Regions from separate parts of the Homo sapiens genome. Here all the other regions are linked to region 1. The links come from fine-mapping of genetic effects on gene expression. A gene starts in region 1. Each other region holds a variant in brackets. All regions are shown on one strand. Distances are from middle to middle.

The links. PIP is the estimated chance that this variant, and not a neighbour inherited with it, causes the effect.
Region 2: its variant is the best candidate, but not a certain one, in a credible set for the expression of PNP in sun-exposed skin (GTEx, PIP 0.74).
Region 3: its variant is the best candidate, but not a certain one, in a credible set for the expression of PNP in whole blood (TOPMed, PIP 0.75).

What each region holds. Positions count from the first base shown.
Region 1 is chr14:20,461,819-20,472,086 of GRCh38, forward strand. It overlaps PNP (purine nucleoside phosphorylase), which reads left to right and starts at 7,588. Exons shown (of 6, transcript NM_000270.4): 1 at 7,588-7,717. The coding sequence starts at 7,707. RefSeq lists enhancers at 1-868, 201-280, 7,355-7,859, 8,050-8,119, 8,150-8,279 and a silencer at 7,520-7,639.
Region 2 is chr14:20,490,838-20,499,430 of GRCh38, forward strand. No RefSeq gene overlaps it. Among named protein-coding and RNA genes, the nearest start is that of RNASE10, 10 kb to the right of the region's middle. RefSeq lists an enhancer at 834-933. The variant C/T (reference allele first, on the strand shown) is at 3,109.
Region 3 is chr14:20,416,189-20,426,138 of GRCh38, forward strand. It overlaps KLHL33 (kelch like family member 33), which reads right to left. Exons shown (of 5, transcript NM_001365790.2): 5 at 9,664-9,950. Among named protein-coding and RNA genes, the nearest start is that of TEP1, 7.7 kb to the left of the region's middle. The variant A/G (reference allele first, on the strand shown) is at 6,429.

The sequences.
Region 1 (10,268 bases):
CACTAAAACACTTTTCTCCGGCTTTGCGTTGTAGCTGGTTTCCTATTGGCTGGTGACTTTACTTCTTTCGTCCTGTGATCCTAGCGGCGCAACTGCATTGGCCCGAACTTAGCGCCAGAACATGGGGGGCGTGGCTTATGCATTTTAAAGGAGGCTGGGCGGGTGCAATAAAGGAGTGCGGAAGCTTGGGATCTTCTGAGCGGGGAGAAAATGGACGGTGGGGAACAGTAGACAAAGTTAGCTGTTCTACTCAAAGAAGTACCTTTAAAAAGTCAGAGTAATGAGGTACCAGAAGGAAATGGATTAAAAAGTTAAGATTATCACTCCAGCCTTTGTCGCTAGAGTCACTTTCAGGACAGGACACAAGACTGGGTTTTCCTGGAAGCTGTCCTTACAGAGCCCCGTCTTTCCCCATTGCTGATCAAATTGTTAAATTATCTTTTCATTAGTGTCTCCACTACTAGAAGATTTCATCGTTTTACTAAAAAAAAAAAAAAAAAAATTCAATAGAGATGGGGTCTTGCCTATGCTGGACTCAAACTCCTGAGTTTGATCTCCTGCCTAAGCCTTCCCAGTAGCTGGGACTACAGGGACAAGCCACCGTGCCTTTACTCAGTTTTATGACCACCAACCTTTAACATACGCACAAGTTTGTAGATTGGATTAATCAAATACAAGGTTATTTTCGTCACCTTATTTGACAGATGGGACAGTCTTTAGGCCTGTCTCAACTTTGCTTCCAGCAAAGGGGCAGTGCCTCCTCCCCTACCTGAAGTCTCGTGTGGTCTTTATGGGCGCCTGAACCACACCTGGATTTTTTCCCAAGTCATAGCCCAAACTGGGACTGCTTTAAATATGGGAAGCAACAAGGAATTGATAAAAACAATAAACCCCGAGGAGGTCCATTATCAGTTTGGCTAGCAGACTCTCCACTAAGAAAGGAAGTGCATCAAAGAAAGTACAGCCAGCCCCAAATATGTAATAACAAAGGAACTGCAGATGTCCCAGCACTTGGCTGCTACAGGGGCTGGAGACTTCACCTAGGTCCTGATTTTTTTAGACAGGGTTTTCTCAGGCCAACTTCTACTTGGAAGCTAGTAACCTTCGACCAGTTAGATAAGAGCCCCTAACAGACACTTAAAGAACTAAGGAAGCTCCAGATACAAAATAGGGAAGAGGTTGTAGCTCCATAGAGGGAGGCCAGTCTGCTGCTTTTTCTGCTGTTTGTGGCACACAGATGCTCAAGCATTGTCTGGGGTTGGAGTAGGATCCATTATTTGCGCCCTAGTTACACATATATTCCAAAAACTGTCCTAAAAATATTTTTTAAATATCTACACTTTGTGAAAGACACTCCTTAAAAAAGCTTACACTCTGGGTAGGGAGACAGAATAGTGTAAACATTGACAGTATAACATATCAGGTCAGGAGTGGTGGCTCATGCCTGTAATCCCGGTGTTTTGGGAGGCTGAGGTGGAGGATTGCTTGAGCCCAGGAGTTCAAGGTTACAATGAGCCATGATCTAAACCTGGGCAACAGAGCAAGATCGTGTCTCAAAAAAAAAAAAAAAAAAAAGAAAATCAGCACTAGTATTTTATTACATGGAAAAATATCAATACTAGAAATTCATGATACAGCACATGCTTCATAATAAAAGAATTAAACAATGTAATTCAAGTTCAAGAAAAGAAGAGATCACTTCTAGCTAGAGCAGCCAGAGAAAACTTCTAAAACATAAAGAAAAATGAGTATTGTGCATGGATAACTAGGATCTGAGCTCTGTGTTGTTGAGTAGATCAATAGGCAGAAAAATGCAAAAAGTAATCATAATATTTGGAACTTGCTCACAGTTAATAAAGCATTTTTTTTTTTGAGACAGAGTCTCACTCTGTCGCCAGGCTGGAGTGCAGTGGTGTGATCTCTGCCCACCTCCCGGGATCAAGCGATTCTCCTGCCTCAGCCTCCCGAGTAGTTGGGATTACAAGTGTGTGCCACCACACCCAGCTAATTTTTGTATTTTTAGTAGAGATGGGGTTTCACCATGTTGGCCAGGATGGTCTCAATCACTTGAACTCGTGATTCACCCGCCTCGGCCTCCCAAAGTGCTGGGATTACAGGCGTGAGCCACTGTGCCCGGCCAATAAAGCACATTCATAGTTATATTCATTTTATTTCAGAACCCACTGTGATGTGGACAGGGAAGGCAAGACTATATCTTTATTTTACAGATGTGGAAACTGAGGCTGTGTAAACTGGAGTCATTTAAGCTAAGTGACAGATTGAAATGGAGCTCTAAATCCCCGTCTTCTGACTTATGATCTAATATTTTACATTCAAATAATTTGATAGGTAGATTGAAAGGGACAGAAGCACAGAAGTGGCAGAGAGAAGGTGCTTGGGATGAGCCCCCTTTTATGCTAAATGCCTGGAACATAGAAGCTGCTTGATAGATGGCTCTCTAATTAATTAATGAAGTAACTTAAGCCCCATCTTGGGATAAATTTGCTGGGTACTGAACAATATTGTTAGCTGCAGTTGCAAGCAGGGAGGATATTCAGCTGGGGCACTACAGGGTGGCTGGCATTGGTTGTTTATGGCGCCATTGGTTCTGATTGGTTGGTACCTGTATTTTACAGATAAGCCATTTTAATATTATCTCTGGTAAATATTGAGTGTCTCAGGTATTGCCTGATTTTTACCTATGGGGTGGGATCTTCTCACTTAGATTGAGAACAGTTAGGCTATTGAGGTGTATTAATTTGCTAGGACATAAAAAACACTATAGATAGCATAAACGACAAACATTTATTTTCTCACAGCTCTGGAGTCTGGAAGCCCAAGATCAAGATATTGGCAGGTTTGCTTTCTCCTGAGGCTTCTCTCCTTAGCTTACAGATGGCCACCTTCTCACTGTGGCATAAATGGCCTTTTCTCTACACACATTTTTGCTTTCTCTTCCTCTTTCTCTTCTTTTTCCGTGCTTTTAGAGACAGGGTCTCACTCTGTCACCCAGGCAGGAGTGCAGTGGTGCAGTCATAGTCTGTGGCGGCCTTGAACTCCTGGGCACAAGCAGTCCTGCCACCTCAGTCTCCCAAGTAGCTGGGATGACAGGTGCATGCCACCATGCCTAGCTAATATTTTAATTTTTTGTAGAGACAGGGTCTCACTATGTTGCCCAGGCTGGTCATTGGTCTCTAACTCCTGGGCTCAAGTGATCCTCTTGCTTTGGTGTCCAAATGCTGGGATTACAGGTGAGCACCACCCTGCCTGGCCTCTCTTCTTCTTATGAGAACAACAGTCTTATTGGATTGTGGCCCCACCATTATGACCTCATTTAAACTTAATTACCTTTTTAAAGGACTTATCTCCAAATATAGTCACAATGAGGATTAGAGCGTCAATATAAGAATTTGGGGGAACACACTTCATTGTGTTATATAATAGAATAGATTTCAAAGCATTTTTTTCTTTAGATTTCCAACAAAGTGATAACTAGTACAGTGTGTACATGGCCAGAGGATGGGGTGGAAAACATCTGCTTGGCTTCTATGACCCAAAGTGTCCCAATCTGATTTCTTTTTTTTCACATATTCCACATGCCCTATTTCTTTTTTCCTCTTTCCTGAAGTGGTAATTTACCACCTGTGTGAAAACAACACAATCCCTTACTGCATTTCAAAGGCACAGAAAGTTTCTGGTAATGTGCAGAGTGAGTTAACTAAGACGAGGGGTAGTTTGCCGGGGGTTGGGTGGGATTGGGTAGGGTGTGACCTGGTTTTAAAGAATTAATTTACGTTAATTACATTGGGACTTTGCTCCCTTGTGCTCCTTGCTCTTCCTGGGCCTCAGTTCTTTGCTCTTTCCTTTAGGGAATTCCTGGCTTCCCTTTCTAGGAGCCAAGGTCTTTGGAATAGAGGGTGGTAGGCCAGTCCTTTATCTCTGCTCTGTTCTTCCTGCCACTGAGTGAGGCACAGATGGAAGTCTCACTCTTAGAAAAGAGAAATAAAAGTGATCCCTATAACAGAAAGAGAAGGGCTGGATGTGCTGGTTCATGCCCATAATCCCAGTACTTTGGGAGGCTGAGGTGGGAGGATCACTTGAGCCCAGGAGTTTGAGACCAGCCTGGGCAACATGAAGATACCCCATCTCTAAAAAAATAAAAATAAAAAATAGGCGAATGCGGTGGTGCGTGCCTGTAGTCCTAGCTACTTGGGAGGCAGAGGAAAGAGGATCGCTTGAGCCTAGGAGATTGAGGCTGCAGTGAGCTGAGATTGAGCCACTACACTCCAGCCTGGGTGGCAGAGCGAGACCCTATCTAAAAACAAACAAACAAACAACAACAAAAAAAAAACAGGGAAAAACCCTAAAATGTTTTAATTTCAGTAATTGGAGAAAATGGAAGACCAAAGATTATGGTGATAAGGGGAGTAGATATTTTATTTTATTTTTTGAGATAGGGTCTCACTCTGTCACTCAGACTGGAGTGCAGTGGCTCCATCACAGCTCACTGCAGCCTTGACTTCCTGGGCTCAGGTGATTCTCCTGCCTCAGCCTCCCTAGTAGCTGGGACCACAGATGCCACCACACCTGGCTAATTTTTGTATTTTTTGTAGAGATGAGACTTCACCATGTTGCTCAGGCTGGTCTCAAACTCCTGGGCTCAAGTAATCCTCCTGTCTTGGCTTCCCAAAGTGCTGGGATTACAGGTCTGAGGCACTGTGCCTGGCCAGGGATAGATATTTTTAAAACCGCATATTTAGCTTGTGATCTAGAGAGAATAAGAGATCTCAGTTGAGAGGGCAGGAATAAAATACGTTCCACAAGGCAATACTGAGTGACTTAGAACCTATTCCTGCCACTTTTTTTTAGTTTCCTTGATCTTGCGGGTGGAGGGTAAGTGTGTTACTAAGTATGTTCCTGGACAAGGAGTCCCTCTGAAGATAGAAGTGATGAGAAGATAGAAGAAAAGGTAATAAGGCATTAATGAACTCTAATCACACTAAGATTGATGATCGTCTGGTTCCTGTCTATAGGAATGCTACAGGAACTCTTTTACCCTAAAAGTAAATAATAAAGCACAGTTCCAGTTTCTTTTATGTGGATACAAGGTGGCAGTGACTAGAAAAGATAAGAACAGTGCTGTGCTCTAGCATAAAAACGTAATTATGCTATGCAATATGGTAGCCACTAACCACATGTGACTATCGAGAAGTTACAATGTAATTAGTATGATTAGGTAACTGAATTATTTTTATTATATTTCATCTTAATTAATTTTATTACTTTTAAATAGCCACACATGGCTAGTGCCTTCTGTTTTGAACAGTGTGGGATTCATTGGTATTGATAGGCTGGATATACCTCTAGTTTTTATTTTGATTCAATTTATGGTTAGGTGAGTCTAGAAAGAACAAAAGAGAAAGAGACAATGGAGATTAATCATAATAGCCAGCATTTAATGTGTGCTTATTATATATCCAGGCATTTACCTAAACATGTAAAAGGTATTCTGTATAATCCTTGCAAAAATACTAAGATTATTGCTATTTTACAGATGAAAAAATTGAAGCATAATAAGAATTTTACTTGCCTAGAATCACACGAGTAAATAAGGGGTGAAGATGGCATTCATACACAGGTAGTTTTATTAGAGCCCATTCATTTACACTACATAGATTCAGGAATGAGGTGGCATGGAGTGACTGGGGCCATGGTTCCCAAACTGTGCCAAAGTACAAGCTCACAAGGGTATTGTGGAATATTTTTAATTTTCAGAGGAAACACAGCAATATTTTATATTTCTTAAACACTGTGTGACCTATTAACTTGAGGTGATTCACAGTTGGAACATTAGATTGTGCTACATTCCTTTTGATGACAATATATCTGGCCAGGTGTGGTAGCTCATGCCTATACTCTCAGCACTTTGAGAGGCCGAGGTGGGCAGATCAGTTGAAGTCAGGAGTTCAAGGCCAGCTTGGCCAATATGGCAAAACCCCGTCTCTACTAAAAATACAAAAATTAGCCAGGCATGGTGGCAGGCACCTGTAATCCCAGCTACTCGGGAGGCTGAGGCAAAAGAATGGCTCAAACCCAGGCAGCAGAGATTGCAGTGAGGCAAGATCGTGCTACTGTACTCCAGCCTGGGTTACAGAGTGAAACCCTGTCTCAAAAATATATATATATATAAAGACAACATATCTTTACAAAAGATGGTTTTAGAAGGTCCCTCTGATAAAAATTAAGTATTAAGTAAAAAAAAAAAGTACTGTGTAAAAATCAGCATGGAACAGAAAATGAGGGTGGCAGCATTGGATTCCTGCATGTGAGAAGTTGAGTAGTGCCAAACAGATGTACATATCCCGTAAGTAACTGTTTGTGGTTATTTAAGAACGAAATTTTTTTTTCAATTTGTGTGCATTGTTATTTTCAAAGTGCTAGTAAGTTCTCAGGAACCAGCTACTCACTCTGTTGCCCAGGCTGGAGTGCAATGGTGTGATCTCAGGTCACTGCAACCTCCACCTCCCGGGTTCAAGCCATTCTCCCTGCCTCAGCCTCCCAAGTAGCTGGGATTACAGGCGCCTGCCACCACGCCCAGCTAATTTTTTGTATTTTTAGTACAGATGGGGTTTTGCCTTGTTGGCCAGGCTGGTCTCCGACACCTGACCTCAGGTGATCCACCCACCTCGGCCTCCCAAAGTGCTGGGATTACCGGCGTGAGCCACCGCGCCTGGCCTTTATATATAAATTTTTTTTTAATTTTTTAAATTAAAAATTAAATGTAAATTTAATGTAAAAATGTAAATTAAATGTAAAAATTAAATTGTAAATGTGGGCAGAAGTAATAGTTGTATTCTACCAAAGACACGCTATTTATGTTATATTCTGGTACCCGTGTATTCCGATAACAGAATTTTCTTCGTGGGAGGAGTCCTCTAGTTACCTGAATTGCTTGGATCAATATTGCGCAGATCAAGGGATTATCTGTGTCCCTACCCACCAAATCCATCCTTATCCTTTCTGTCGGCATCTAGGACCCCGGAATTCTTGCCTGAGAACTTTTTCTTCTCCCGGTCTGGGCCTGGATGTGCTCTCCTAAACCCTGTATCCTCCAAGTTAGCACTGTTGCCGGGGGCGACCCAGCTTCCCTTGTCCAGGGAGCAACTCAGACACAGTCTCGCTTCATTTTTATTCTGGGGTTGTACAATCTAAGGTATGAAATTTTTCCTTTTTGAATCTCTCACGGTTTGCTATTGACACAGCTGGAATGAGGTTGCAAGGAGAGGGCTGGGGGCTCTCCTCCCTACTTCTAGCCCTATTTCCGCATAGGCCTTCTTGCTGGGAACTCCTGCCCTGCGGACTGGAATGGGTACCGAGATGAAATGCTGGGTGCGCTCCGGCTCCCCCCGCCCGCCCCGGGGCAGAAGGTTTAGGGCTGGGAAGAACTCTGATTAGGTTTACAGCCCAGGTTCAGCCGATTGAATTAGGGTGTGTCACCATGGAGACAGGGCCGGCCCGCGTGCTCGCTTGCCATTGGCTGGGGACTCCAGGGCAAGGGATATAAGCCAGAGCCTAGACCAGTGAGCCAACTGTGCGAACCAGACCCGGCAGCCTTGCTCAGTTCAGCATAGCGGAGCGGATCCGATCGGATCGGAGCGGATCGGAGCACACCGGAGCAGGCTCATCGAGAAGGCGTCTGCGAGACCATGGAGAACGGGTGAGGAGGGCACCAGGCCCGCAGGACCCTTGGGGAGGGGCAGGTGCTGTGACCCGGGAACCTGGCACACTGGGCCCAGAGGGAGCTGGCGGAGGGAGCGAGCGCCCAGGGGATGCAGAGAGGCCTGGCACTGAGCCTAGTGTCGGGAGCAAGGCGGCAGAGTCATGCGGCAGCCAGCGCGGGCAGGGACGCACGCGGGAATCGAGCTGGGGTGGCGCCACCGGAGCAGGAAGGGGACAGGTCGGTGCGGTCTAAGCTACTCCGTAAAAGCAGCCGTTGTGTGTCTCCGTGTGTGTGTTAGGGGAACAAGTGGAGAGTGAGTATATGTATATATCCCTCACTCCATACCAGGAGGAGGTCTCCTCACCCCCTGCGCTCTTCATAAATTCCCATGCTAGGGTCTGGGTAAAGCTGCGAGGTACTTTTGGTGCTCAAATTCGGAGTTCCTCCTTTAGAGGCAAGATTACTCACCTCCTTTGCCAGTTGCACTCCTCCCTTCCTTCCAGACTGGCAGTATGATTAACTCGGTGGGAAGTGACTGCTAAGTGGAGACGGAAATCAGTCACCGAACTGAGCAACAGTCCTGTGCTCACTTCCCCCACCCCACGCCTTTGAAAACTCTTCTCTCGGCTTGGGTCCTGGATATCCCAGTCCAAGTGACCTGCATTAGGCATCACAGTTGCTTTTGGATGCCCAGGGAGCCAGGGTGTTCTTGAGGGGACTGATAGCCAATGAGGAAGTGCTGTGAGATGTGGCTAGACATGCCATGTGGCGGCAGCTTCACACATTCATTTCCTTTGCACCTTTTGGGGATGCCATTTGATTAACATTTTACCAGCTTAATTGCTTCTCTCCATTGTCCTGTGGCTCCGTTGACCAGCCCCCAACCTACCTGATCCAACTGCTTCCCTGAGGGTAGCCTGGTGTATTGTGCAATCATGTCTGGTTTCCCGGGCTCTGCTTTCCAAGTAAAAAATTTCCTGTGAAAGCTTGGTTAGTTGTGTTCAGCTCTGTCACACCTCATTGCCACCTCTGAAAGCAACGTTTGGTCTTCCCAGATGGATGTGAGAGAACTGGACTTGGAACTGGGAGAAAAGTAACACGGGTTGATTCTTGCTAGTGTAGGGGTTCTGGGTAAGTGCCCTGAGGTTTCTGAAGAGCAAAGATCCTCGGTGGAGAGAAAGGAAACTGGGAGGAGGCAGGGAGGGGGAAGGACAGGAAGAAGACCACAGGCAGGTGGAAAGCAGGAGAAAGATTCAAATACTTTGTGTAACAGAGCCATAGGTCTTTGGAAGTTGTTAGCAAGTATTCAATTCATTTTCAGATTGAGCCTATAAGATAGATGGGGCCAATTTACATCCCTTGTTTATACCTGAGAAAATAATTTAAAGCACAAATTACATGCCTAAAAAGACAATATTGGGACTAGAATCTAGGTCGAATTCTGCTTCCCTCCAGACCAGCAATTCCTAAACCTGGTTTTATTTTATTTTATTTTTATTTATTTATTTTGGAGTCGGAGTCTCGCTCTGTCTCCCAGGCTGGAGTTCAGTGGAGCGATCTTGGCTCACTGCAACCTCTGCCTCCCGGGTTCACACCATTCTACTGCCTCAGCCTCCCGTGTAGCTAGGACTACAGGGGCCCGCCACCACGCCCGGCTAATTTTTTTTTTTTTTTTTTTTTTTTTGTATTTTTAGTAGAGACGGGGTTTCAACATGTTAGCCAGGATGGTCTCGATCTCCTGACCTCGTGATCCGCCCACCTCGGCCTCCCAAAGTGCTGGGGTTACAGGCATGAGCCACCGCGCCCAGCCCCTAAACCTGGTTTTAAAATCAAAATTACATGGGCTTCAGAATCTGTTTTTTGTGGGGGTTTTGTGTGTGTGTGTGTGTGTGTTTTTTATAGGGTCTCACTCTGTCACCAGGCTGGAGTGCCAGAATCTGTTTTTCTAACAAGCTTCTGCTGAGAATTTGTGTAGTCAGTCCTGGTTTAACCTTTGACAACCAGTACTGTGGACTGGGTCTGCTTTTTTGTACAGCAGTTTATCTAGTTTTTTGTCTGGAATTAACCCCCTTGTGATCCAGGGAGCTAAGAATGGCACGTAGACCTCTACCAGGGGTGGTCCCATTGTGTTTTATTGGTTAAAACAAAAAAGAAATGTAGCCCTTAAGTCTTTGGCTGAGGAAGGAACTGGAGGAATGAGGGTTCAAAAGGAAATTTGAGTTTATCTCTGCCTTCATAGTAGTTGGTCTTAATTACATTTTGAATGTCTTTGGGGAACAGGTAAGGTAATAAGGGGGATTTTACTAGGTGGGCACCACCCTCAGGAAGGGCTTAATCCCATTTTGAGTACTCTTCTTGGGCTCCCTCCTGGCCAAGCCCTTTTACCCTCCCTAATTTGATTATTTCCTTGCACTTCCCCGTACACTCTGGCCCCTTCCTCTCTAAACCTTTGTCATAAGGATAAGTATGCAGCTTGCCAGTGTTCAGTGGATCCAACACTGGAGTTGGGCCTGTTAGTAGAAACAGGCTTTATTAACTTTTGCCAGGC
Region 2 (8,593 bases), 28 kb after region 1:
ACTCTTCTGTGCTAACTTCTGTGCCAGTGTATTAGTCCGTTTTCATGTTGCTGATAAAGACATATCAGAGACTGGGAAGAAAAGGTGGTTTAATTTGACTTACAGTTCCACATGGCTGGGGAGGTCTCACAATCATGGCAGAGGGTGAAAGGCACTTCTTACTTGGAGGAGGCAAGAGGGAATGAGGAAGATGCAAAAGTGGAAACCCCTGATAAAACCATCAGATCTCGTGAGACTTATTCACTACCACGACCAAACCATATCAGCCAGTATCTGCCATCCCAAGTGAACTTAGTCTGTGAACTCAAAATAGTGCTGGCCAGGCATGGTGGCTCACGTCTGTAATCCCAGCGCTTTGGGCGGCCAAGGCGGGGGGATCATGAGGTCAGGAGATCGAGACCATCCTGGCTGACATGGCGAAACCCTGTCTCCACTAAAATACAAAAAAATTAGCAGGGCATGGTGGCACATGCCTGTAGTCCCAGCTACTAAGGAGGTTGAGGCAGAAGAATGGAAGAATGGCTTGAACCCAAGAGGCAGAGGTTGCAGTGAGCCGAGATCGCGCCACTGCCCTCCATCCTGGCAACAGAGTGAGACTCTGTCTCAAAAAAAAAAAAAAAAGTTCAGAAAAGGCAGAGTTTCTTCTGGCGAGTCATTCCTTTCTTTGGCTCTGTGACCCGCCCTTTAGGAGCATCGTGCAGATGGACTGGCTTGTCCACCTGGTGGCCCTATCAGGGTATATGGGCTTGGCATGGAAAAAGCCTCTGCTCCTTGGATCACTAATATTACCTTGATCATCATCATTACCTGACCAGAGTACTAGACACAGTTTCATGAAGAGAAAGCAAACCCTTTCATCCTGAAATTTTAACTTAGTTGCTCCTCCCATGGGGTGATTCTTGGTGCAGGGGAGATATCTATTTGCAAATTGAGGGGCATTTGTGTCTACCTTCTTGACTTAGGTGGTTTCTGTTTTGTTTCTCGTTATGGTTGTTGGCTGTCCTTTCAAGATTATTTCTACGCGTCAAAAAGTCTGTGAGCTAATTTTAACATGTCAGGCATCTTACTGGAAACCACACATTTACTCCGAATAAAGCTACAACATGCTAACTAAAACTAAGTTTGTTTGAACTATTCAAACCATTGTGGTCATCTCATTCTTACTAAAAACCTTTTCTGGTAAGTTTCATTTATTTATTTATTTTTATTAGTACAAATGGGAAAATAAAGTGGTGATTCATAGGTATAAATATTATATGGCAAAATTTCTTCAACACTTGAAATTATTAGTACCACCTGAGAATTACATCAGGTCAAATCAGCATTTGGTAAATAGTAGTCACCATTTGTAGAATTAAACCATCCAAACTTCTAATCTATCACCTAGGGCTAAGGACTCACACACTTCAGCTCTGGGGACCAAAATGCTGGCTTCAGGAAGCATAATGATTTTAGCCTCGATACAGTGATGGCATAATCAATCAAGTTGTATCCTGCCTCTTTTCTCTCACCTAAATTTGATTTGTGTGATTATTTATTGCAGACAGTTTTGCAAGCTGACTTTAATCCTATCTTGGAATGAGGTGGAGTATAAAAGAATACAAATCAACAAACATGCTAATGTATTTTAAGAAGGAGATAGGAGAGTTTGGAAATTGGAAAGGGAAATTCTAAATTTTGAGAATTGCTTTCTACTAAACCATCATTGTCCAGGAGTAACACACTAGCTCACTTCTTAATTTCAAGTCAGAAACATTTTCCCAAGCTTATCCTGGCCCGAAGGAACTGTGACGCTGCTGACCACTGATGCTCACCAAGCAATCATCTCTTTGAGGTTTGGTCTCCCACTTGAGTCAGGGAGAGAATGTATGGGGCAGGTTTATTTTCACTGCACATATTTTTCAATGTAGATCTTGTTCATAGTTTTAACTGGGGATTGGTTGGTGTGAGTAACTCGCATGAAACTGAAAAATGCGCTGGACACAGTGGTTCATGCCTGTAATCCCAGCACTTTGGGAGGCTGAGGCAGGCAGATCACCTGAGGTCAGGAGTTCAAGATGACCCTGGCCAAAATGGTGAAACCCCATGTCTACTAAAAATACAAAAATTAGCCAGGTGTGGTGGCGGGTGCCTGTAATCCCAGCTACTTGGGAGGCTGAGGCAGGAGAAGCTTGAACTCGGGAGGTGGTGGTTGCAGTGAGCCGAGATCACGCCACTGCACTCCAGCCTGGGCGACAAGAGTGAGACTCCATCTCAAAAAAAAAGAAACTGAAAAACTCAGATAAGATCAAGTTTGCACCTGTAAGTTGTGGATAGGATCCAATGTATCTTGGATAATTGTGCAGCCTCCACCTCCTGAAACCCTTTCTGGGTGTCCATCTGGTTTTTTTGGACATGGTCCCCCAGATACATTTGCTAAGTTACAACTATATCTTAACAAATATTTATAGGGACCTATGGGGGCTGGGAATAATAAAAAGGGTCTAATAGGTTGGGCAACCCCATCTCTACATCTCTACAAAAAATTAAAACATTAGCTGGATATGGTGGTGCCCACCTGTACTCCCAGCTACCTGGGAAGGAATTTTTAAAATTTTATTTAAAAAAAGGAAAGAAAAAAGAACCCATGATGATCAAAAGATTAGAAGCTACCAGTTTAGCTGGTACATCTTCTTCAGACTTTAGTGGTTTTGTCATTTGGATTGAACGCAGTTCCCACTGAAACTTATTTGGCCACTATCTGAAGTTGAAATATCACACAGTGACAATTGTTTGAAAATTTCAGCTCCCCTTCTCCTGCCTCCTCTTCATCTCTAAGTATTTTCACTCCCATCTACTCATGGCAGTATCTGGCCACTGCCCATTCTCAGACCAGAAAGGGATCAGGAAAAGGCCAGTGTGTGGGGTGAGGCTGACTTCCAACAGTTGAGCTAGTACAGAGCCACTGAGCATTTCCCTCCCTAGGGCTCACTCTTCCTCAAAACTGCTAGTGTCTTGCAGATCCTCTCTCAAAACAAAAGAGGAAGTCAGAGGTGGAGCAGGGAGTGGTTTGAACTACTGGTTTTACTGGAAAAGGATTCCTGTTCCAAACCTCAAGAGCAAGTTCTT[C/T]GATCTTGAGCAGGAAAGAATTAAGGACAGGGCGCAGAGTACAGTATAGTTAAAACAGTTCATTAGAAACTACTCTATTACAGAGTAGGGCATCCTCAGAGAGCAAGAGGAGGAATGCCCCTACTTTAAATGTAATGCTTGCTTATACAGGATATTAAGGTTAAGAATAGTTTACTTTGGGAGTCCGAGGTGGGTGGATCACGAGGTCAGGAGATCAAGACCATCCTGGCTAACACGGTGAAACCCCATCTCCACTAAAAATACAAAAAATTAGCCGGGCATGGTGGTGGGCACCTGTAGTCCCAGCTACTCGGGAGGCTAAGGCAGGAGAATGGCATGAATCCGGGTGGCGGAGCTTGCAGTGAACCGAGATTGCGCCACTGCACTTCAGTCTGGGCAACAGAGCCAGACTCCATCTCAAAAAAAAAAAAAAAAAAAAAAAAAAGAATAGTTTACTTTATTATAAAGGCTTGTGATCAAGTTGTGACAGGCTATTAGTATTGTTATTCTCCGGTGTAACTATTGATTTCAGCAATAATTTATGAGTGTAGTATTATCTTTAAAGTGAAACCCATGTTTATTTTTATGTGTTTATTTGCTTACACCTTCACCACCACAAGAAACCCTCCCACCCACCTTTTTTTTTAAGACAGAATTTCACTCTTGTCGCCCAGGCTGGAGTGCAGTGGTGCGATCTTGGCTCACTGTAGCCTCCACCTCCTTGACTCGATCCTCTTTGATCCTCTGGATTCTCTCACCTCAGTCTCCATGCCCAGCTAATTTTTATTTTTATTTTTTTATAGAGATAGGATTCTACCATGTTGCCTGTCACGTGTGTCCGTGTGAAGAGACCACCAACGGGCTTTGTGTGAGCAATAAAGCTTTTTAATTACCTGGGTGCAGGCGGACTGAGTCCAAAAAAGGAGTCAGCAAAGGGAGATGGGGTGGGGCTGTTTTATAGGATTTGGGTAGGTAGTGGAAAATTACAGTCAAAGGGGATTGTTCTCTGGCGGGCAGGGGTGGGGGTCACAAGGTGCTCAGTAGGGGAGCTTCTGAGCCAGGAGAAGGAATTTCACAAGGTAATGTCATCAGTTAAGGAAGGAATCGACTGTTTTCACTTCTTTTGTGATTCTTCAGTTGCTTCAGGCCATCCGGATACTTACACGTGCAAGCTTGGGCTCAGACGCCTGACATTGCCCATGGCTGGTTTGAACTCCTGAGATCAAGCAATCTAACTGCCTTGGCCTCCTGAAGTGCTGGGATTACAGGTGTGAGCCACCATGCCATCCAAGAAACCCATTTTTAAACTAAGAATGCCTTTTTCCATCAACTCATTTCCTCAACCATAAACATTTTGTGATTAACAGTGCCCAATTTCCTGGGAAAGTAACCCAGCAGGTTTGGCTTCATCTGGCCTTTATTCAAGATGAGTCACTCTGATTGGGACACCTCGAATACTGGTGCAAATACCCAAAATGAAACAAAACTGCCTGAACTTACTCATTACCCCCTTCCTTACAAAGCCAGCAGACTTCCTTTTTGTAATTTCCTTCCCCTTCAAGTTTCCTTTCCTTTCCTGTTCTTTCTTTTTTTTCATTCCTTTTTCCTTTCCTTTCTCCTTTCCTCTTTCCTGTCCTTTCCCCTTTCCTTTCTTTTTCTTTTCTTCTTTTCTTTTCTTTCCTTTCTCCCTTCCCTTCCTTCCCCTCCGCTCCCCTCCCCGCTTCTCCCTTTTCCCTCCCTTCCCCTCCCTTTCCCTTGCCCTTTCCTCCCCTCCTCTTCCTTCCTCTCCCTGCTCTCCCCTCCCTTCCTTTCCCTTCCTTTTCCTTTCCTTTACCTTTCCCTTCCTTTTCCTTTCCTTTCTTCTCCTTTCCATTATGGAAATTTTTAAACATGCACTGAAATTAGAAAGAAGCATATGATTTAATCCCCAAGTGCCCATTACATGCAGCTTCAACAGTAATCAACATTTTGCTCATCTTGTTTCATCTCTTCTCCTTATTTTGTTATTTTTACTTATTTGTTTATTGCTGCAGTATTTTAAAGTTAATTGTGAGTTTATTTTTAATGGAGTCTCTGTCTCCCCATGGTACAACTTGAGGCTGGGCAGAGGAAACCAAGCTTGATGAGTTCAGTGCCTCTGCCTGCCTCCCTGGCTCTCCATTGCCGCCTCACAGTTGGAATCAGGTGCGAAAGCTATTTCACAACCTGATATTTATTCTTCTCATAAATGTTGTTGACTACCTTCATTGTTCCACACACTTTGCTTGGCACTGAGGACAAGAAGAGAGATGGCATAGGAAGCTCTCAGCTCAGTGTGCTGGAAGATAAGTAAAAGGGCAATCCTGACGGTTTGGCCTGATTATTTCCACAGGTGGAAGAGTTTTATTTACCATATAGGCCTTCTTAAGTTTGCTTCGTAAATCTAGAGCCATATACTATTCACAAGGCCACAGAATGAACTTCTTTCTAGAAGTTTCCTTAAGAAATCTCAGACTGACTTTTAAAAGCCTCTATTATTTGCTGTTGTGAGGTTAGAAAAACCAAGCTCAAGAATCTCTTTCCACTAGATTTTTACCCACAGTACCTATACATTTGGATGAATTTCTTTCTTCTCAAGTTTCTCATATTTTCTTGAAGTTTCTTACCTGCCAAGAAGGTAAGGAACCAAGAACTAGGAAGTGACCTTCCTCACCTCCTGCAAGACTGGGACTCTGTAAGCCAGATCCCAGGTGGGTTTTTCTGAGAGGATTTTGTAGGCATTGGCTCATCAAAGCTGATTAAAGGAGCACCATTCTCAAAAGTGACATTCTGGCCCACACCTTGGTTGTGTAACTGTTTTTCTGTTATATCCTGGCAAAAAAGAGAAAAGATTCTTGCTGAACCTATTCAGATAACTATACTGTTATAAAAAGTAAGAAAGGAGGTAAGAGTTTCTGAATTCTTAGTTGGAGTATGTGGGTCAGTAAGAATCAGATATCATTTAAAAATGTTTATTTTTGATAAATATTTTAATTTTCAAAAGCTCCTAACTTATGAATTAGAGAGATTTTAAGAAGAAAGGAAAAAACCTTGTTTATATGTTCAGAATAGAACATTAAAACAACATCAACATTAAAGCAGAACTTTAAAACAATATTCCAAACAAATAACTACAACGTTTCTTTATAAGTTCATTCAGCTTTACATAATTAATTCTTATTCTGTTGAAACTTGAGTTAACTGTCATGAAGAGGTTTTTTTTTTAAATAAAAAAACTAAAATGAGTTTTGGAAATCTGGAGTCAGTCTACAGGTTTGATATAAAAAAAATTTTTTTTTTTTTTGAGATGGAGACTGGCTTTGTCACCTAGGCTTGACTGCAGTGGTGCGATCTCTATTCTCTGCAACCTCCACCTCCCAAGTTCAAGTGATTCTCCTGCCTCAGCCTCCCAAGTAGCTGGGATTACAGGCCCCCCGCCACCACTCCCGGCTAATTTTTTTTGTATTTTTAGTATAGACAGGGCTTTGTCATGTTGGCCAGGCTGATCTCAAACTCCTGATCTCAGGTGATCCACCCGCCTTGGCCTCCCAGAGTGCTGGGATTACAGGCGTGAGCCACTGCACCCAGCCTGATCTAAAAATTGTCTAAATGATGTTACATCAAAAGCCTATATCCAAGTATATGCTTTGAAGTATTAATAGTTTGAAATATCTGGTACAATCGTTTTTCATGAGGCTTTGAGACTGTCCTTCTTTATTGAAGACACAAATTGTGGCCTGTAATTTATAGCAGAGTCTTTAGGCAAACATTAGAGTAGAGCAAAAACTATCTGTAGGTGACAGAGCTTTAAAATGACTGTGGTTAGTTTATTACCAATAATTTTCAAATGTGAAAGGTTATGCAGGCTCATGATAAGAATAATGCAACTTACAGGCCGGGCGCGGTGGCTCACGCCTGTAATCCCAGCACTTTGGGAAGCCGAGGCGGGCGGATCACGAGGTCAGGAGATCAAGACCATCCTGGCTAACATGGTGAAACCCTGTCTCTACTAAAAATACAAAAAAATTAGCCGGGCATGGTAGCGGGTGCCTGTAGTCCCAGTTACTCGGGAGGCTGAGGCAGGAGAATGGGGTGAACCCAGGGGGCGGAGCCTGCAGTGAGCCGAGATCGCACCACTGCAATCCAGCCTGGGCGACAGCGAGACTCCGTCTCAAAAAAAAAAAAAAAAAAAAAAAAAAAGCAACTTACAAAGAAATTTGGTTATTTCTTCAACATATACAACCAGATAATAAAGTCATCTCCAATAATTTTTAGATGAAATATCTCTAAAGATAATGATTAAGCCTATTTCAAAGAAGAGAGTGAATATTACTTACACTGATAAAAATGTTTGAATTTTTTTTTTCTTTTGAGACATTCTGTTGCCCAGGCCGGAGTACAGCAGTGTGATATCGGCTCACTGCAGCCTCAACACTCTGGGCTCAGGTGATCTTCCCACCTCAGCCTCCAAAGTAGCTGGGACTACAGGCACGCACCACCACACCCAGCTAGTTTTTGTATTTTTAGTAGAAACAGGGCCTTTCCATGTTGCCTAGGCTGGTCTCAAACTCCTGTGCTCAAGTGATCCACCTGCCTCAGCTTCCCAAAGTGCTGGGATTACAGGCTGAATGAGCCACTGCACCCGGCCTGAGCATGATTTTTATCGAGGATGACACCCAGAATATCAGAGAGCTGGCATCTTTTCTAGCAGAGGTATAGGCTGTAAAAAAACAAAGAACTTCTTGGCAGGAGTGATTCATAAATTAGATGTGATTTTGGGGAGCTCCTTTTGTAGACTGTTGGTTCTGGAAGTTTCTGTTGCACCAGAGTGGTTGTGGTTTGTTTAACGGTTCATATGTTATTAGCAAAACTCTTCCAAGATTGCAGAAGCTGCCCAAATCACTCAGTTAGAAAGAACAAGACATAATGTGGTAACTCCCCCAGAGATCAATCCATGGACTGAACCCATGGCTATGCAGGGCCTGAACAGGTAGAAATCTAGATCAGAGAACTACAATGATTAGAGAGGGGGAACAAGGATCATAAGAATAAAGTAGCAGGCAGACTAAGAAGGGTTGGGTTCTATAGATTGTGAGCAGGTTTGTGTAGTTCATTTTACAAATGTGAATTGTGATTCTTAATAATAACTAAAAATACCTATCTTATATATTCAAGATTGTTTTCGGAATCACTGGTAACCAATTGTTCTCTAGGTCCATGAGGAAATGATTTCACCTGGAACACATTATCAGGGTCTAGGCAGATGCTAAAAAAGAAAAAACAATGGGTGGAAGTCAGCAGATCGGGGCCTCATTCCTGTTCTGCCACTCGCCACCTATGTGGCCTCAGGCGAGTCACTTAACAGCTTGAGGCCTCAGTTTTATTGTAAAACCAAAGAAGTAATTTGAGACCTTCTTACTTGGTGGGGAAGTTGTGAGGATCACATGAGGTTACTTATGTGAAAATG
Region 3 (9,950 bases), 46 kb before region 1:
TCCCAACCTCAAGACCTCGTAGTCTGTGACTCTCTGTGGGAAACACCTGCCCCACCAGTGAAAGAACAGCATATGCAAGCCCTTCCATCATATTCCCATAAATATCAGACCTGAGAAGACTGGCAATACAGGAGGGAAGGCAATTGGTGATGGCTTCCTGATTGGCTTTGAGGATCTAGTTTTACTTTCTGGTTTCCTGAAGCAGCAAAGAGATTCAAGGCCAGCAAGGCTTGTACACTGGAACTACCTGGAGATCTTTTAAAAATTCCAAAGTCCAGGCCACACCCCAGACCAATTAAATCGCAATCACCCAGAGTAGGACCCAGGCATCAGTAGTTTTTGAAGTTTCCTAGGTGCTATGGTCTGAATATGTCCCCCAAAATTCATGTTGAAACTCAATCTGCGATGTGATAATATTAAGGGTTGGGGTCTTTAGGAGGGATTAAGTCGTGAGAGCAGAGCCCTTATGAATGGAGTTTGCAGCCTTATAAAAGGGCTAGAAGAAACCAGCAATCACTCCTTTGTTTGCCCTTCCACCTTCTGCCATGAGAAGATGCAGCAAGAAGGTATGTTCTCACCAGACACCAAATGCTAGTGCCTTGATCTTGGACTTCCCCAGCCTCCAGAATTATGAGAAATAAATTTCTATTATCTATAAAATTACCCAGTCTCAGGTATTTTGGTATAGCAGCACCAGTGGATGGAGACATCAGGTGATACTAATGTGCAGAAAAGTTTAGGAACCTCTGCTCGAGGGTCTCACTAATCAAAGTATGGGATTGTGGACCACAACATCAACATCACCTTGTTAGAAATGCAGACTCTCAGGCTCTACCCCAGATCTACTGAATCAGAATCTTTTAACAATATTTTCAGGTTATTCCCACTCACATTAAAGTTTGAGAAACACTGATCCAGACAAGTGGGGTGGAACCTGAGAATCTATATTTCCAAACACTGTGGTCAGGGCCCAGTGATTTGTATTTTAACAAGCTGTCCGGTTGGTTTTGGTACATGCTTAAATTTAAGAACCCCTGATTAGGCAGGGTGTGGTGGCTCATGCCTATAATCCCAGCACTTTGGGAGGCTAAGCGGGCAGATCACTTGAGCTCAGGAGTTTGAGACCAGCCTGGGCAACATGGTGAAACCCTGTCTCTATAAAAGATGCCAAAAAAAAAAAAAAAAATTAGCTAGGCATGGTGGCCCACACCTGTAGTCCTTGCTACTTCTGGAGCTGAGGCAGGAGGATTGCTTAAGTCCAGGAAGTCGAGGCGGCAGTGAGCTGTGTTCGTGCCCTGGCAACCTGGGTGACAAAGCAAGACCCTGTCTCAAAAAAAAAAAAAAGCTCTGATTAAAACGAAGATTGTTGCTCATCTCTTTTGAAAATTTCTGATTCAGTAGGTAGGTCTGAGATGGAACCTGAGAATTTGCACTTCCAGCAATTTCTCAGGTAATCATGACTCTTATCTCTGATCTGAGGTAAACATTTAAAAAACTATTAATCTAGGATGATTACCTAAACAGAAGCGATAGTTACTACCTACCACATGGCAGAGGTAGGTAGTAAATAATGCACCTGTCACACTTGAATTGCATATATAAATTAAAAATTTGGCCCAATTCCCAGATGTTCTGTTCCAATCACACAGCCACTGAATGATCCCTAAAGGACATTTCAGCTGTGTTTTGAGGAGCCAGATAAACTATCTCTGCCTTGCAACAGAGAAAACCTTTCAACTGGCAAGATGTTCACAATGTTCAAATTCAGCTTTTCATACCCGTAGGAAGTGCTAATCATATTGCCAATATTTGCTTCTTTGAGTCATGCTTTCCTAAGTTAGCCATTCCCTTGAGTTGAACCAATCTTTCTTCAGATGACTATCATTAGAATAAATCAGGAGTTTTGCCAATCAAATAACTATACCAGGGCTGGGAAGATGTGCCATTTCCCACTGGAATGAAATCACTTAACTCTCACAGAACCATCTTACATTCCTTATTTGCAAGTTCTTAAAGGACCATTCACTTTCTCCTGCATATAGGCCAACACCACCTTACTGTTGATTAGTAGCATTGAGCTGCGATGGCCAACTGATGGGTGTAATATCCAGATTTGTCTCTGGGACAAAGGAGTGCCACCCCCTCAGTCTTCCCTTTTGGGAAGGGTCCTACCACCTGTTAAAATTGCTCACTTGTGGTCAGTTTTCTTGCATGTTCATTGTCCTCCTCTACTTTGATCAACAAACATCTGCTAATCCCCTGTCAAAGAATAGTGCTAGTACATGGGTAAAATGTATACAACATGCCTTCTTCTCAAGACTTCATCATCTTGTAGAGATAGACACATGTAGAAATCACAAAAATACAAGGCAGATAAAGAGAAGTGCTATAATGGACTAAGAGACAAACTATAGGGTTATATAGGTGAGAGCAAGGATCTCAAGCAACTCCCTGGAGAGATGGACTTTGAACTGGGAAGGGCAGGCCTCTGATAAGCTGGGAGGGGAGTGACCAGTAGGAAGTGGAAAGGCCATTGGTTTTACCTGATTTTTTTCTTCTTTGTGAATGATTACCTTTAGATTCACAGTATACGTTTGTTTGACCTAACCATCACAACTTAAAGCATCACACAAGCCGTGATATGTGGACAAGCACACACTTACTGGATAGCCACTTGTCACCTCAGACAAGCCCTTCTGGGCCATCTGAAAGCAGATTACAAGAACCTCAGTGTCTTCTCCCTTCTGACTCTTCTGAATCAAAACAACCCTGCATTTGGCCTCTGGTCTGTGGACATTTGCCAATATCTTTCTTCATCTTTCTTTTTTTTTTCTTTTTGAGGCAGAGTCTTGCTGTGTCGCCCAGGCTGGAGTGCAGTGGCACGATGTCGGTTCACTACAACCTCTGCCTCCTGGGTTCAAGCAATTCTCCTGCCTCAGCCTCCCAAGTAGCTGGGATTACAGGCACCCACCGCCATGCCCAGCTCATTGTTTGTATTTTTAGTAGAGACAAGGTTTCACCATCTTGGCCAGGCTGGTCTCAAACTCCTGACCTCAGGTGATCCGCCCACCTCAACTTCCCAAACTGCTGGGATTACAGACATGAGCCACCATGCCCGACCTCTTTCTTCATCTTTCTTCAAGGACATTCCTCACTGACTAGTCTCCCTAATCGGGTATGGTAATTAAAATAGGCCACAAATTCTTTGCTTCCTCTCCCATTGAGAGGCAGAGTCTAATTCCTTCTTGAAACTGGGCTGACCTGGTCACTTGCTTGACCAATATAATGTGGCAGCAGTTGCATTCTGGGACTTCTGAAGCTAGGTCAAAGGAAACTTGCACTTCCTCCAGGACTCTGGAACACTCCCTTGGGAAGCCCTGAGCTGCCATGTGAGTCCAACTACCGTAAGACTGCCACTCTAAAGAGGCCACATGTAGGTGTTTCAATTAACACACTCAACTGAGCTCAGCCTTCTAGCCATCTCCACCAGGGCACCAGACATGTGCCCTGTCTGGTGCCCTAGTGGAGAAAGAAGCAGTCTTAAGTCCCTCAGACCAGTTCATCTACCAATTGTCTATTATCAAGTAACTTCCACTAATGACACATGAAACAGAAGAATCATCTAGTGGAAGCCTGCCTAAATTTAGTGAAGTCAGTTACACATAAAATTGTGAGATATGATTAAATGGTTGTTGTTTTAAGTCACAAAGTTTTGGGCAGCAAATGATAACTGGTACACTAGGCCTGCAAAACATAAGACAGTTTACATCAGGGTACTCTGTAATCATCCTACTTTTTTTTTTTTTTTTTTTTTGAGACAAAAACAGTACACCTGATCCCGAAAAGGATTTGAGTCCTGCTTTTGGATGGGATGAGGCAGAGGTAATTGGAAGTAAACTTTGGATCTCAAAATAGTGAACTTGGTGCCGGGCACAGTGGCTCACACCTGTAATGCCAGCACTTTGGAAGGCAGAGGCAGGCAGATCACCTGAGGTCAGGAGTTCAAGACCAGCCTGGCCAACATGGTAAAACCTCGTCTGTACTAAAAATACAAAATTAGCCGGGTGTGGGGGCGTGCACCTGTAATCCCAGCTACTTGGGAGGCTGAGACTGGAGAATTGCTTGAACCTGGGAGGTGGAGGTTGCAGTGAGCCAAGATCACGCCACTGCACTCCAGCCTAGGCAACAAGAGTGAAACTCCGTGTCAAAAAAAAAATGAAAAAGAAAAAAAAGGCCGGGCATGGTGGCTCATGCCTGTAATCCCAACACTTTGGGAGGCCGAGGTGGGCGGATCCCAAGGTCAAGAGATCAAGACCATCCTGGCCAACATGGTGAAACACCATCTCTACTAAAAATACAAAAACTAGCTGGGCATGGTGGCATGCGCCTGTAGTCCCAGCTACTCGAGAGGCTGAGACAGGAGAATTGCTTGAACCTGGGAACGCGGAGGTTGCAGTGAGCTGAGATTGTGCCACTGCACTCCAGCCTGGTGACAGAGAGAGATTCCGTCCCAAAAAAAAAAAAAAATAGTGAACTTGGAACATTTTAATGACTTGTAGGAAGAATTTAAAAAATAGGGGAATTCAGATAATCAGGGAAGAACTGGAGTACTTGGCTGCAATCCAAGATATGGGTGAAGATAGTATATTACATATATATATATATATATATATATATATATATATATTTTTTTTTTTTTTTTTTTTTTTTTTTTTTTGAGATGGAATTTTGCTTTTGTTGCCCAGGCTGGAGTGCAGTGGCATAATCTCGGCTCACTGCAACCTCTGCCTCCTGGTTTCAAGCAATTCTCCTGCCTCAGCCTCCCAAGTAGCTGGGATTACAGGCACCTGCCACCACCGCTGGCTAATTTTTTGTCTTTTTAGTAGAGACAAGGTTTCACCATGTTGTCCTGGCTGGCCTTGAACTCCTGACCTCAGGTGATCCGCCTACCTCTGCCTCCCAAAGTGCTGGGATTACAGGAGTGAGCCACCACACCCAGCCAGATAATATATTATATATTAAATATGGTTGTTTAAACATGAACTCTGGAGTCCAACAGATCTGGGTTTATTTTTTATTTTTTTATTTTTATTTTTTGAGACAAAGGTCTTGAAACATGTGCCACCACACCTGGTCCAATGGATCTGTGTTTAAATCCTCCTCTGCTACTGACTAGCAGTGTGACCTAAGCTGTAGAAGAAAATAAGGTTAATAATCTCAACCCTCAAAGGGGCCAGAGAGTGGTCCTTGAGTCTGCAGTAAGATCACATGATGCTGATTTGGCAAAGGGGTCAGGCTAGGTTCTCCGTTTGAAAAGTCTCACCTCCTGTCTCATTTTCATAACAATCCCCAGCTCAATACATCCTAATAAGTGAAAAAAACTGCTGGAAGGAAGAACCCACTGCCCCTTTCTCTGGCTGAGCGTCTTTTAAATTCACAGCTATTTGCATTACAGCAATTGGATGTTAATTTTTCAAGACCATGTCTCCAAACCTCCAGTGGCACTTATACTCGCTCATTGCTCCCACTTGTAGAGCCCATGTATGAGTTTCATGGATAAAGCTTGCCACTCAAGTGGAGATGGAGCTACATTAGAGAGGGGGCATAATAAAGTCCTTCTACCAGTTTAAATACATGCTCAACATTTACAAACTCCTCTAATCTTCCAGTTTTCTCATCTATAAAGTGGGAATAATAATAGCACCCGCTTTTTATGGACTGTATTGTCATTCAAATTAGATAATATACATAAAGCACTTAGCATACCACCTGGCATATAGCTAGCACAAACAATGATAACTATAATCTAAAACAAGCAGTTCTAGGCTGGGCACAGTGGCTCACACCTGTAATCCCAGCACTTTGGGAGGCTGAGGCAGGTGGATCACCTGAGGTCGGGAGTTCAAGACTAGCTTGGACAAGATGGTAAAATCCCATCTCTACTAAAAATACAAAAATTAGCCAGGCATAGTGGCAGACTGCTGTAATCCCAGCTACTCTGGAGGCTGAGGCAGGAGAATCACTTGAATCTGGGAGGCGGAGGTTGCAGTGACCCAAGATCGCACCACTGCACTCCAGCCTGGGCGACAGAGTGAGACTCTGTCTCAAAAAAATAAAAAATAAAACAAGCAGTTCTTACTCTGCAATGAAAGAGTTGGCTTTCATCAGTGACAGCTTGCTTGAAAAGTGTGTATTGGGGCTCAGATTGCCTACCTGGCAATTAGTCAAACTGATATATAGGCCGGGCGCGGTGGCTCACTCTTGTAATCCCAGCACTTTGGGAGGCTGAGGCGGGCAGATCACTTGAGGTCAGGAGTTCAAGACCAGCCTGGCCAACATGGTGAAACCCTGTCTCTACTAAAAATACAAAAATTAGCCGGGCATGTGCCTATAATCCCAGCTACTCGGGAGGCTGAGGTAGGAGAATC[A/G]CTTGAACCCAGAAAGTGGAGTTTGCAGTGAGCGGAGACTGCGCCACTGCTCTCCAGCCTGGGAGACAGAGCAAGACTCTGTCTCAAACAAAACAAAACAAAACACCAACTAACTGATACATAGCTCTCTAACTATATGCCTTGGCCTCATTTGGAATCCAGATGAATCTGCTTCCCTGTCTCAGGAGTACATCAGGCTGGAGTAGCTTATAACCTTCTGTACGGTACTCGTGGTCTCAGGAGCCTGTCACTACGGTATACTGGCCTCCTTGTTTGGCATCATTTAGCTCTCTGATCTAAAAGGATATGTCCTAGGAACTTGATTTATAGATTACCAAGGCACACTTTTCCAAATGTGCCTAGAGGTCCTTAGGACTGTCCCAAGCTCTGGGGTTCATGAGCTATAATAACACTGTGGTGTTTACAATACCATTATGGTGCTTATTTTATGGGGTACGAACTTGGAATTCAAACTGGTTAAAGGACTTACTCATAATTACCAAAGCAACAATTGAATTGAAACTTGAAGCCAAGTTACTGAATCTAGCTCAGTACACTTTCAAGGCTATACGTTTTTTTTGTCATTCTTCTAATACTGTATTTGTCTGTTCTCACATTACTATAAAGAAATACCCTAGACTGGGTAATTTATAAAGAAAAGAGGTTTAATTGTCTCATGGTTCTGCAGGCTATACAGGAAGCATGGCAGCATCTGCTTCTGGGGAGGCCTCAGGAAGTTTTCAATTATGGAAGAAGGCAAAGGAGGCGTGAAACGTCTTACATGGCAGGAGCAGGAGCAAGAAAGAGAGTGAGGCAGAAGGTGCTACACACTTGTAAACAACAAGTTCTCACGAAAACTCACTACCAGAAGAACACCACCAAGGGAATGGGGCTAAACCCACCATGGAAACCACTCCCATGACCCATCACCTCCCACCAGGCCCCACCTCTGACACTGGGGATTACAATTTGACATGAGATATGCACAGGGACACAGATCCAAAACATATCAAACACGAAATATAGATTATTAAATTCTGAATCAGCTACAGTAATAATACCATGATCATTTCTCTCTCAGAGAAAACAGACTATAATCTCACCACTAATGATATATATGTATGTATGTATATACACATAAATATCTATCTATCTATAATTTTTTTGGTAGGTGTTTTACCAGGAGCTGTGATGAATTCACACGTTTTCACTTAGGGCTCCTTGATCTCAAGGGCTAGACAGGATTTAGGATATAGTCTATGATCCTGAAAGAGTAATTATGACTGTCCTGTCTATAGACCTCGTCTGTGATGTTTGTCTTAGCCTGCCTGTTGGTCCTAATGTATGTGAGAGACTAGTTTCATGAAAAGCCTTCCTCTTCATTATCCAGACTGTGTACCACATAACTTTATTTCCTAAGCTGTGTAACAAAAGGTTTGAATTACATGATCTCTGAAACCTCTCCATTCTATAATTCTATTAAATAATCTTTCTATGCAATTTTTCTTTTATTCCTTTTTTTTTCAAGATGGGGTCTCACTATGTTATCCAGGCTGGACTCGAACTCCTGAGCTAAAGCAATCCTCCCACCTCAGCCTTCTGAGGAGCTGGAACTATGGGCATGTAGCACGGTGCCTGGCACTTTTTCATTCTTTTGATTGAACATTGTTGCTTCTACAACCCAGAGTGTCTGTCTGGGTAAGTAATAATTCTTGGTTTCACAGCTAGTGAAATTTTCATATAAATTTGCTCTTCTATTTTTTTAAACCTTCCTTGCTATCAATTTTCCATATATTATTATTATTAATTTGAGACAGAGTCTCACTCTGTCACCCAGGCTGGAGTGCAGTGGTGCAATCTCAGCTCACTGCAACCTCCGTCTCCCGGGTTCAAACAATTCTCGTGCCTCAGCCTCCCATGTAGCTGGGATTACAGGTATGTGTCACCACACCTGGCTAAAAATTTTCCGTATATATTATATTTAACACAGAAAAGATTGGGAGAAGACACTAAGTCAGTTTTTCTTTGGGTAGTCCAGTATTACATGATGAGTCAAGTAAAGAAGAAAAGATAAAGGAAAATAAGCTCAAGAGGATTCCAAAGCTTCAGGCCCAGGAAATAGGAGAAATGATAGTGCCAATAAAGCATGAGGAATCTGAACTAATGATGCTGGCACATCTAAATGGAGGTGAGAATCACTGAAAAAAATCAGACTAGAACCCAGGCGAACCATCAAGGTTGGAGACAGAGGAGAGGTGAGCTTCCTGACAGGGAGCATAAAACAAAGGAAAGGAAGAACGTGAGCAACCCAGCCAGGACTAGGCACAGGAGACAAGTGATACCTAGAGTCCCACACACTTACTTGTACTAAACATTAACCTGCATGTCCAGTCCTACCCAGTACCTGAGTCAACCTTGGAAAGATAAGAGAGATATCAGAAATTTCACCCTCACCAGCAAAGGGGGTGGAGGGAAGACTGTTGGGGGAGCTATTAGAGAGCATCTAGAACACCTTGGCTTATCATCTGATTCACCAAAGGTAAGAATCCCAGGCCTCTACAGTCATCAAACTAGTCTTGCCAGGTCACCACCACGGCTGCCCAATCTGTATGCATAGTTTCTATCCCAATTCCTACTTCTCACTCCACTTCCCTTCTGGGGTTGAAATGTTACCCTGATATTACCCTATTCTTAGTCTGCCTGGCTGAAGACCCAGACTGTTACCTTGCCTATATTCAGTCCCTTCTCACTGATGAATGGACTATTGACTAGGGTCCTCCTTCAAGTCAGAGGTCTCCTCTCTCCTCACTCTTCCCTCAGTTTTAAAGACAAATAATGAAAGTCAGAACTTTCTGCAATGAACCACCCTCATCCACATACCTGTGGATCCTTGGCTATCAGCTCCAAGGATGAAGCCACACCCCCCTGGACACTTTGATCTGGCTTACTGGATTTTGGATTGGAGAAATAAGAGAAGGTCCATCCAGGAGAGTGTGCTATCTCTAAAGCCAGAAGAAGAGAAATTTTTAGGGTAAGAGCCAGTTTTCACGCCAATCAGTTCCTGTAGAAAGATGAAAGAGAATGAAGATGGCCACAGATTGTTAGATTTGGTAAGAAGCAGGTCACAGTAACAGTGGAGGGAGATGATTTCAATCATGTGGTAGACCTAGAAGGCAGAATACAGGGAATTTTATTTTGAATGCTTTTTATAGTAGAGAAACTCAGATAAGAAAGATTCAGTCACTATGAAACCTTTATTTAAGTCTGCCTTTAGGTACAAATCACAAAAAATGTTCATAGAAGTTCATCCAGAGAGCTTGTCATCTCCTTCAATTTCCTTCTTCCCGTTCTTTATTCTTCCTTCTCTTTTCTCTTATACATCCTACTTACCCCTTCTCATTTTCAATTACATTCCTAGTCTATCTTAAATAGAGATACAGAAAAAGATCTTACTAAAATAACGAAATCTAAAAATAAATAAATAAAATACATGCCAAGTACTTCTGGGGCCAGAATGAAGAA